Regions from separate parts of the Homo sapiens genome. Here region 1 is linked to region 2. Evidence: fine-mapped expression QTL. A gene starts in region 2. The other region holds a variant in brackets. All regions are shown on one strand. Distances are from middle to middle. Region 1 overlaps FCSK (fucose kinase). Region 2 holds the start of FCSK (fucose kinase).

Region 1 (5,342 bases), 28 kb before region 2:
TGGCCTCACAAAGTCCTAGGATTACAATAGTGAGCCACCATGCTCAGCCTTTCCTGACTTATTGCCATGGCTTTGAATAAATTATTAACTTCTGTGCCTCAGTTTTCTCATCTGTACAATGGGGATAATAATTTTACCTATTTCATAAAGGAGATACTTTTTTTTATGAAGGTCAAAGTAACTTACAATAGTTGTGGGGGTTTTTTGGTTTTCATTTTGTTTTGTTTTTAAGTAGAATAGGTACTTTGTTCTCACTCTGCTGCCCGGGCTGGAGTGCAGTGGCAGTCATAGCTCTCTGCAACCTTGAACCCTTGGGCTCAAGGGATCCTCTCGCCTCAGCCTCCTGAGTAGCTAGGGATGCAGGGGCGCACCACTACATCCAGCTAATTCTTTAATTTTCTGTGGAGACGGCTTCTCACTATGTTTCCCTGCTGTTCTTAAACTCTGGCCGCAAGTGGTCCTTGCACCTTGGCCTCCCAAAGTGCTAGAATTACCCGCATGAGCCACCTCGCCCAGCCTGGTACTTTAATAAAAGTGAAATGCTTAGAACAAAGCCAGGTATACAGTACGCCCTTAAACCTTAGCTATGATCTTGACCATCCCCTTTGGTAGCCATACCAAAATATTTAAGAAGCAGAAACTGACTTTTGTGGTTTTTTGGTAAATTTAAATAAAATTTAAGAAGAAGTAAATAAATATAAAAGGGGGGGAAAGGAGGAACTATAGCAATAATAGCTAGTGTCTCCTGTGCCAGGCATTGAGCTAGGCACGTTGTGCTTCATCTCATACATGAGGAGCAGGAATTGGTGTTCCCATTTTATAGACAGGAAAATTGAAGCTCAGAAACTTTAAATCATTTGCCCAAGGTCACTCAACTAATACATGACTGAGCCAGGACTTGAACCTAGGAATGTCTGACTCTAAAGACAGGAAAAACTTTCTGGTATTTCTGTTTCTTACTCACTTCCCCGACATTGGTACCCCCATATTACAGAGGGGGAAGTGGGAGCCAAGTGGATAACCACCAGGATAGAATCCAGGTTTTCTGAAACCCATCCGGGCTCTTGACAGGCCATAGCTGGCTGGAGGAGTAGAACTGGCTGGTGGCTCCTCACACTCCCATGGCCCACGCGTGCTCGGTGGTCTTACAGCAGTGTTCTCCCCTAGAGTGACTGCACCAAGCTCTTCAGCCAGGGCATTGGAGGGGAGCAGGCCCAGGCCAAGTTTGACAGCTGCCTTTCTGACTTGGCCGCCGTGTCCAACAAATTCCGAGACCTCTTGCAGGTAAGCCCCAGGTTCAACTGCTGACTGAATCCTGTGCCTGTGTGTTGCTCTGAGAAGATTGTTAGCTGGCTCATCGTGTGCAAGGAAGCCAGGAGGACGGGTGAGGGAGCAGCACGCAAGCCCTGGAGCCTGGAGTTGTGCAGGTCCCTTGAGACTAAAGGCCCTGTTGGTTTCTCAGCAGTGAAGTTGTCACACTGACAAGCCAACATCTGGTGCTCTAGACTTTGCACTTGGCCCCACAATGACAAGAGCTCTCAGAAGATGCTCAGAGGAAGTGGAGCCACATGGTTGTTCTGACCTAGCCGCAGGTGCTGCCTAACATTGAGCATTCTGAAATCTCTTGTGAGAGTTTATCAGAACAGTCTCAAGGCCTCATCGTTACCCTGGACCTGAATCAGCTGAGATCTGGAAAGGGGCATGTTCCTGGCTCCTCCTTTCATTAGCACTAGCTCTGTTATAACCTCCAACAGGGCCTGCAGAAAGCCTCAGGGCTGGAAGAACGCCCTGCAGTCAAGGGATGGGGAGAGGAGAGAGGGAAGGGATGGGGAGAGGAGAGGAGGATGGGGTGGGGAGAGGAGAGAAGGAAGGGATGGGGAGAGGAGAAGGGGATGCGGTGGGGAGAGGAGAGAGGGAAGGGGTGGGGAGATGAGAGGGATGGGGTGGGGAGAGGAGAGAGGGAAGGGGTGGGGAGAGGAGAGAGGGAAGGGGTGGGGAGACGAGAGAGGGATGTGGTGGGGAGAGGAGAGAGGGATGGGGTAGGGAGAAAAGAGGGATGGGGTGGGGAGAAGAGAGGGAAGGAGTGGGGAGAGGAGAGGGAAGGGGTGGGGAGAGGAGAGGGAAGGGGTAGGGAGAGGAGAGGGAAGGGGTGGGGAGAGGAGAGAAGGAAGAAATGGGGAGAGGAGAGAAGGAAGGGATGGGGAGAGGAGAGGAAAGGGATGGGGAGAGGATAGAGGGAAGGGATGGGGAGAAGAGAGAGGGAAGGGATGAGTCGTGCCTTCTGTGTCACATGTCTCCACCTTGTCCTTGTGCAGGAAGGGCTGACGGAGCTCAACAGCACAGCCATCAAGCCACAGGTGCAGCCTTGGATCAACAGCTTTTTCTCCGTCTCCCACAACATCGAGGAGGTTAGCCTGGCCACAGGCAGCCATCAAGCCCCGATGACCCCTCATCCCTAGCCCCAGCTAGAGGGAGCAGAGCCATCTGAACAGACTAGACCTTCCATGCTTCCCAGGCCCACTTCCCCCACCCTGACCCATGAAGACTAGGTTCCTCCCAGG[A/G]AACAGTTTGTCCCTAGTCAGAAGGGCTCAGAAAGACATGGAGTTTGCCTTGACCTAACTTATTCCCTTATTGGAGCTCTTTTTGCCCCGCCTATGATAGACTTAGAAGCGTTTTTTTCCTCCTGGCGTAGTGATTTCATTCCTGTAGAACAAGAGATCCAAGAAGGAATAAAATGCCAGGAACTTTACCATGTTATGTGGGCCACTGCTACAGCCCTGGGCTGTTTGCTGGTCAGTTTCTGCCAGCCTGGGTGTCTGAGCTGGTTTTAAACTAGATGAGTCAGAAGGCACAGGGAAGGAAGAATGTTTTACATTATTTTCTTAGAGGGATAGAGGTGGGTGGCAATGAATGGTACTTCTTATGAGGCCCATGGTGACCAGCCCTGCTTCCTGACAACAGGAAGAATTCAATGACTATGAGGCCAACGACCCTTGGGTACAACAGTTCATCCTTAACCTGGAGCAGCAAATGGCAGAGTTCAAGGTGAGCAGGGGCCCTAGGGATCCACTTAGGGAATTACCCACGTCAGCCCAAACCAGCAGCCTGCAGGGTCTCATCACATTCCTTCTGGGGACCCTGAAAGCCCTTCCAACCCTCACCTGTAGAAACTCCCCCGTGGCCTCACGCTACTATCCTCACCACCTAAGACTCCAGCATAGAGGCAGAGGAGTTAGGTGGGGCTCGGCTGATGTCAACCCTCTGTGTGCAGGCCAGCCTGTCCCCGGTCATCTACGACAGCCTAACCGGCCTCATGACTAGCCTTGTTGCCGTCGAGTTGGAGAAAGTGGTGCTGAAATCCACCTTTAACCGGGTAAGGTAAAGGGGTCATGGGTCTGCGGCTCTCGTTTCTCCTCTGAGGAAGACATGTCATGCCACCACCCCCAGGACTTGCATCCCCTCTGTCTGCTGCCCACAGGCCCTGCATGTCTGGGTCCAGTCCTGCTCTGGCTTCTGAAGCCGTAGAGCAAACAAACCACAGGGCACCACCTGAGGCCTGGCGGGCCTTGCCACCCAGCTCTGGGGGCAACTGGAGGCCAGTTCTGCTTGGCCAGGCCTAAGTAGTGACTGGGCTTGGGTTCTCCTGCAGCTGGGTGGTCTGCAGTTTGACAAGGAGCTGAGGTCGCTCATTGCCTACCTTACCACGGTGACCACCTGGACCATCCGAGACAAGTTTGCCCGGCTCTCCCAGATGGCCACCATCCTCAATCTGGAGCGGGTAGGTGGGGCACCCTTGGCCCAGCCAGGGAGGGGTGACTGAAAGAGGCAAAGATGGATCCCCGCCACTTCCCTCTAAACCATGTCTGCCAGCAGCCAGCTCTATAGGACACCTTCCCCTTCCCGGGTGCCCCTGCTCTGCCCCTGGTAGAGGCCAGAGCCCTCTTTCAGAATAACCCCACCTTGCTGACTGGTCTCTATGTCCTTCCCCACAGGTGACCGAGATCCTCGATTACTGGGGACCCAATTCCGGCCCATTGACGTGGCGCCTCACCCCTGCTGAAGTGCGCCAGGTGCTGGCCCTGCGGATAGACTTCCGCAGTGAAGATATCAAGAGGCTGCGCCTGTAGCTGCCTGGATGAGCACACCTGGCTCATCACACTTGCAGGCCTGTTCCCTAAGGGGCCCCAGCCAAGGAGCTGAGCGAGGCTGTCTGGCTTGGGGGAGATCTGACAGCCCAGACCTTTCTACGGCTGGCAGCAGAGAAACAAAGTCTGGACCCACTCCATGCTCTGCCCTCAGACCTGGCCAGGTGATGCTCTGGGGGCAGCATCTCCCCACCGAGAGAAGCGGGCTCCTAATGAGGTGGGAAAGCCACGGCAGGCAGCGAGCAGCCCAGGCCAGCTTTCTGCATGGATGGTCAGTCTCTTGCCCTCAAACACTACAGCAAACAAGCTACCCCTGCCAGTCCTAGACAACTTGGGTACATCTGGGGACCTAGCAGTTAGGCTTGACTTTGAGGAGAGGCTGTGATGTTTATGATCCCTGAATAAAGCTACTCCTTGGAGAGATGCCAGTGTGCTGTTACCAGGGAGGGCCAGATGCTATGGGGCAGGGCAGGTCTATCAGTTGCACTGAAATAGGAAGGTAAAACCCAAGACCTCAGCCTGCTCCCACACACAGTGCAGCACACAGCTGTGTCCGGGGCCCACATGATGGCAGGAGCCCCCATCCAGTCCCAGACCCTCGTGCCCCTCTTGGGCCCCCAGCACCACAAGCTGGATCACCCCAGGGCCAGTTCCCCATGGTGTAGAGAAGTGGGAACTGCTCCCAGCAGGAGCAAAAGTGACTTTACGAGGACCACCTGCAAGGACAGAGTGAATTTATTCCAAGAATGCCAGTCCTGAGAACCCACTTCCCACAGGCACCAGGTCACTTGGCACGCTCCGTAGTTTTGCTAGTTAAGGCCTGGGATGGCAGTGAATCACTGGGTCACTGCTACCAACTTGGCAAGGGACCGCCACCCTCACTCCCACGCTCACATGAGGGTTGAGTGTAAGTCTACAACTCTAAGCCATAGGGAATGCCTCAAAGGGCCTCTTCAGGGTTGGCCTTGCTAAGGGACTCCCAGCCATATGCCAAGGCTGGCTGTCAACCCTTTCCAGGGCCCTTGTGGAATGAGAAGGCCAGCCATAGGATTTGTAAAGGCCACGTGGGATACTAAGCTTGGGACCTTCCTATGTCCAGGAGGAACAGAGGCTACATCTAGGCCCCTGTCCACCAGGTCACAGTCCTGTCCCAGGCACTCTCTGCTTGCCCAGATCTTGCTCTGGTCAGCTTCCTTT
Region 2 (5,367 bases):
CCAAAGTGGGCAGATCACTTGAGTTCAGGAGTTCAAGGCCAGCCTGGCCAACATGCCAAAACCCCATCTCTTTTAAAAGTACAAAAATTAGCCGGGTGTAGTGATGCGCGCTTGTAGTCCCAGCTACTCAGGAGGCTGAGGCAGGAGAATCACTTGAACCCAGGAGACGGAGGCTGCAGTGAGCCAAGATCACGCCACTGCACTCTAGCCTGGGCAACAGAGCGACTCTGTCTCAAGAAAAAAAAGAAATGCCCCAGAGAGTCCAATGGCCCAGAAGTTCTGAGCCCAGTCTTCATCTCAGCATAGTGATAGAGAGACATGGGCAGGTGACAGGTCATGGCCAGAGTGGGGAGAGTATCCCTTACTAATGACAGGGGCAGAGGAACAGTCCTGGGTTGCGTATCAGTCCCAAAAGGCTCTGTCCCCATCTCTACCTCTTCCTGCTTCCTGTAGGATCCTGAGCAAGTTACTTAATCTATTTTTTTTTTTAAGATGGAGTCTCGCTCTGTCACCCAGGCTGGAGTGCAGTGGCGCAATCTTGGCTCACTGCAACCTCCGCCTCCCAGGTTCAAGCCATTCTCCTGCCTCAGCCTCCCGAGTAACTGGGACTACAGGCGCGCACCACCATGCCTGGATAATTTTTTGTATTTTTAGTAGAGACGGGGTTTCACCATGCTGGCCAGGCTGGTCTCAAACTCCTGACCTTGGGATCCGCCTGCCTCGGCCTCCCAAAGTGCTGGGATTACAGGCGTGAGCCACCATGCCCAGCAGTTACTTAACCTCTCTAAGCCTCAGTTTCCTAATCTGAAATTTAAGGCCAAAGACATCAACCTCCCAGGACTGTTTTCAGCATGAAATACAATGTAAAGTATGTGGCACACACCAGTGGCTCAATGAATGATAATCCTTCCAGCCAGGCAAGGAAGCAGGAGAGTTTAACCTGTCCCTGAAGGAGGAAGGACTGGAAGCTCTCAAACATTCTCTGAGTTAAAGACTGTCCTGAAGAAGAAAAAAATCAGGGAAGGCCTCGGGAATCAAGCAAGGCTGAGGGACATCCCCTGAGAGATTAACAAAAAAGGTAAAATGATACAAGTAGCTAATACATATGGAGTGCTTTTTCAGGCACTATGGCAAAGGCACATCAGTGTCACTTCATATGACCCACCCAACAGTCCTAAGAATTGGTTCTTATCTCACTGAAGCTCTAGACAAGAAAACTGTAGTTTAAAAAGCAGAAACATAGCTATTAGGTTGGTGCAAAAGTAATTTTGGCTTTTGCCATTGCTTTAATAGCACAGGCAGGCTAGGCTTTTGTTTTGTTTTGTTTTGTTTTTGAGAAACAGGGTCCGGCTCTGTCACCAGAGGGCGGAACGCAGTGATGTGATCACAGCTCACTGCAGCCTCAAACTCCCGGGCTCCAGCGATCCTCCCATCCCAGCCTCCCAAGTAGCTGGGACTATGCATGAGTCCTGCTAGTTTTTTATTTTTTGTTGAGATGGGGCCTCCCTTTGTTGCCCAGGCTGACCTACAACTCCCGGACTCAAGTAATCCTCCCGCCTTGGCCTTCCTAAGTGTTGGGATTACAGGTGTAAGCCACCATGCCTGGCTTTTTTTTTTTTTGAGACAGTCTCCCTCTGTCGTCAGGCTGGAGTGCAATGGCGCGATCTCGGCTCACTGCAATCTCCGCCTCCCAGGTTAAAGTGATTCTCCTGCCTCAGCCTCCCAAGTAGCTGGGATTACAGACGTGCACCACCACGCCCAGCTAATTTTTGTATTATTAGTAGAGAGGGGGTTTTGCCATGTTGGCCACGCTGGTCTCAAACTCCTGACCATAGGTGATCTACCTGCTTCCGCCTCCCACAGTGCTGGGATTACAGGCGTGAGCCACCTCGCCCGGCCTTTTTTTTTTTTTTAATTAATAGTTTGCTGGAGTTACACAATCTCAAGAGGTCCTGAGAAAGTGTGCCCTAAGGCCCTAAGGTTCTTTTGTTGTTGTTGTTGTTGGTTTGTTTTGTTTTGTTTTTGAGACGTAGTCTCGCTCTGTCGCCCAGGGTGGAGTGCAGTGGCGTGATCTTGGCTCACTGCAACCTCCATCTCCTGAGTTCAAGCGATTCCCTCGCCTCAGCCTCCCAAGTAGCTGGGATTACAGGCATGAGCCTTGGCGCCCAGCCTCTACCCACTTTCAATACAGCCTCATCTGCTGAGATCAAGTTGAAATATTTTTTAGTGTCCTCAGCCCCACGCTGTCCAAGACTGGGATAGGGTTGGGGAGCCAGAGATAGAATAAAGTACTAAGAACTCTTCATATGAACCTTTTGAAGACAGGTGGGTCAGGGACTGCACATTTTAGAACTTTAAAGAGGAAAAAAAGGCTCACGGAGGACTCTGACTTGCTGCCTTCTAAATAACAGACCGAAAGAAGTTACTTGGGAGTAAAATCGTTTTGTAAATTACCCAAGAGCACATCATTGAGATTTGTGCATAATACTGAGCCCTGGCCGGGTAAACTGAGAGAGGAGAAGCGGCCTCAAAGTAAAATCAGAGCAGCGCCGGCATCCAGGGCCCCACCTGCCTCAGGGTGAGGATCCTCTGAGGCCCGCATCCCTCCCGGTCCCAGCTGCCAGCAGGTCCGGCCGCACCAGCCGGGTCGCGGGGCTCCCCTTGGAAGACCCAGGCCAAATGGACGCGGGAGCGTAGAAACACCTGTGGGCTCCCGGGGCACCGCAGAGCTCCCGGGGACTCTTCCCTGTCAGGACCCGGGCGGCCCGCGGGTCGACTCGGTGCTCCCAGTCAGGGAGGGTGCACCGGAAAGCTGAGGGGGCGCAAGGGGCGCAAGGGGCGCAAGGGGCGCTGCGGCGACCCTCGCGGACTGACGTACCTGCCGTCGCCCGGCGCTCGGCGGAGCGGGCTCTTTAACGCGAGGCTGCGCGACCCTCGCGGTGCACTCCGGGAAGTGTAGTTTCACCTCCGCGCCCCCCCAAGGCCGAGCCCCCGTCCGGCAAAAAACACGGTCGGAGCCACCGCATAGGCCAGCGTGGGTGGCCGGGGCAGCGCTTTCCTGAAGGGCAGCGGGGCTGCAATCCAGAAGGGAGATGGGAAGGGGGCCGCTCCAGGACCCACGAAACTACAACTCCCAGAGGACCGAAGCGCCTTAAAGACAGAGGCCCGTTTTCTGGGACTCCGGGATCCAGGTTAATAGGTTAATGTGTAGCTTTTTTGTTTGTTTTCTCGTTTGGGTTTTTTTTTTTTTTTTTTTTTAACACCTTCTGGACGGCACCAGGAGCTTCCGCTTTCCTCTGGAGAAAAATCCACTGATGGAGGAAAAAAAAAAATCACGCTTTGCCCAAGCGGAAGCAGCTGCCATTCGATTTGCAGTTGGAAAGGTTTGCGCTGGTTTCATCACGTGGATCCTTTGGGAAGAAACTTTCCAACTCCGTAATGGGGAGGGGATCTGCGGACCTTTTGGGAAAGTTGTGAATGGCAGCATTGATTGTCATAGATGACAATTGGAAATACTCTGAGTGTCTCTCTCTAGGTTACTATGTGAAAGGAAAATAAATCTCAGGACCCCAAAGTCACTAAGTCAAAGGGAAAAGTCAAGCTGAGAACTGCATCAGGGAAACCTACCTCCCATTTTATTCTTAAACAAGATAACTACAAAGATAAAAAAGCTAGATATGGCCTGGCCCTCACAACTTGCCCACTAGGAAATTCCTTGTGTGCCCCCAAATCTGTACCCTAAAACAGTTGTGTGGAATTTCAGTGACAATGTAAATTTATAGCTTATCTTCACAGGTGCTGGGCTTTGACAGCACTGAAAGTCATCTCTCAGCTCACCTGAGACAAATGCATATCTCATTGCTTCCTCTGCCCTATGTTTATTTTTTCTTATGTAAAAATGCATATTCACTGAGCTAGATGAATGCATAAGTGACTAGTCCTCTATCCCCCTCTAACATGTGAAAGGCTTATCAAAGACTCAGAAGAATGCAGCCATTTGCCTCTTACCTACCCATGCCTTTTAAAAATTTCCTCTTTCAGGCCAGGCACGGTGGCTCGCACCTGTAGTCCCAGCCCTTTGGTGAGGCCGAGGCGGGTGGATCATGAGGTCGGGAGTTGAAGACCAGCCTGGCCAATATGGTGAAACCCCGTCTACTAAAAATACAAAAATTAGCTGAGCGTGGTGGCGCGCACCTGTAGTCCCAGCAGCTTGGGAGGCTGAGGAAGGAGAATCGCTTGAACCCGGGAGGCAGAGGTTGCAGTGAGCTGAGATTGCACCACTGCACTCCAGCCTGGGCAACACAGTGAGGCCCTGTCTAAAAAAAAAAAAAAAATTCCTCTTTCCCCAATATCTGACCTTTCCCCTTTAAATATTGAAGCCCTCAAAATCATCTTTGGAGAAAGGTACAGACCTGTCTCCCAGGTGCACACATTCTTAACTTTGGCAAAATAAACTTGTAAATTGATTGAGACCAGTATCTGGTGCTTTTTGGTTTACAACTGGAAAACTAAACTAGGCACATCCATGCAAGACAGATGCTCTATATGTTCAGTAGGGAGTGATGTTCAGGACATCATGTTAAGGGAAAAGCAGCAAGTTGTAGAGCAATATGTATGGGAAGCCCCTCAAATAAAAAATAATGTTTATGGACAGATAGTGTGTGGATACACAGGAACAGGGCTGGAAGCGAACGCATGCTAGGGAGAGACTGCTAAGCATGGGGACAAGCGGGGAGAACTTGAGCTTTATCTGTATTGTTTGAATTTTTCTTACAAGAATGTACTTTCCAAATCTGTTGTTAATAAGGAGCCTAAAGCTGGGCACAGGTGCTCACGCCTGTAATCCCAACACTTTGGGAGGCCAAGGTGGGAGGATGGCTTGAGCTTGGGAGTTTGAGACCAGCCTGGGCAACATAGCAAGACCCCGTCTCTAAAATATATATAAATTAGGGCCGGACGAAGTGGCTCATGCCTGTAATCCCAGCACTCTGGGAGGCCAAGGCAGGCAGAAAACTCGGGGTCAGGAATTCAAGATGAGCCTGGCCAATTTTTTTGTTATTGTTGTTGTGAGACAGAGTCTCACTCTGTTGCCCAGGCTGGAGTACAGTGGTGTGATCTCGGCTCACTGCAACCTCCGCCTCCCAGGTTCAAGTGATTCTCTTGCCTCAGCCTCCTGAGTAGCTGGGATTACAAGCATGTGCCACCACGCCCAGCTAATTTTTGTATTTTTAGTAGAGACGGGGTTTCACCATGTTCAGGCTGGTCTCCAACTCCTGACCTCAGGTGATCCACCCACCTCGGCCTCCCAAAGCGTTGGGAGTACAAGCGTGAGCCACCGTGCCCAGTCAGTGGCCAATTTTTTTTTTT

The links.
Region 1: its variant is fine-mapped to the expression of FCSK in lung (TOPMed, PIP 0.91).

Annotation. Positions count from the first base shown.
Region 1 is chr16:70,479,795-70,485,136 of GRCh38, reverse strand. It overlaps FCSK (fucose kinase), which reads right to left. Exons shown (of 24, transcript NM_145059.3): 24 at 4,863-5,342. COG4 (component of oligomeric golgi complex 4) reads left to right here. Exons shown (of 19, transcript NM_015386.3): 14 at 1,168-1,284; 15 at 2,316-2,408; 16 at 2,962-3,045; 17 at 3,272-3,373; 18 at 3,650-3,778; 19 at 3,993-4,566. The coding sequence ends at 4,127. Among named protein-coding and RNA genes, the nearest start is that of FCSK, 28 kb to the right of the region's middle. The variant A/G (reference allele first, on the strand shown) is at 2,562.
Region 2 is chr16:70,452,142-70,457,508 of GRCh38, reverse strand. FCSK (fucose kinase) reads right to left here and starts at 2,914. Exons shown (of 24, transcript NM_145059.3): 1 at 2,879-2,914. LOC124903708 (a long non-coding RNA gene) reads left to right here and starts at 2,973. Exons shown (of 2, transcript XR_007065104.1): 1 at 2,973-3,191; 2 at 4,042-4,472.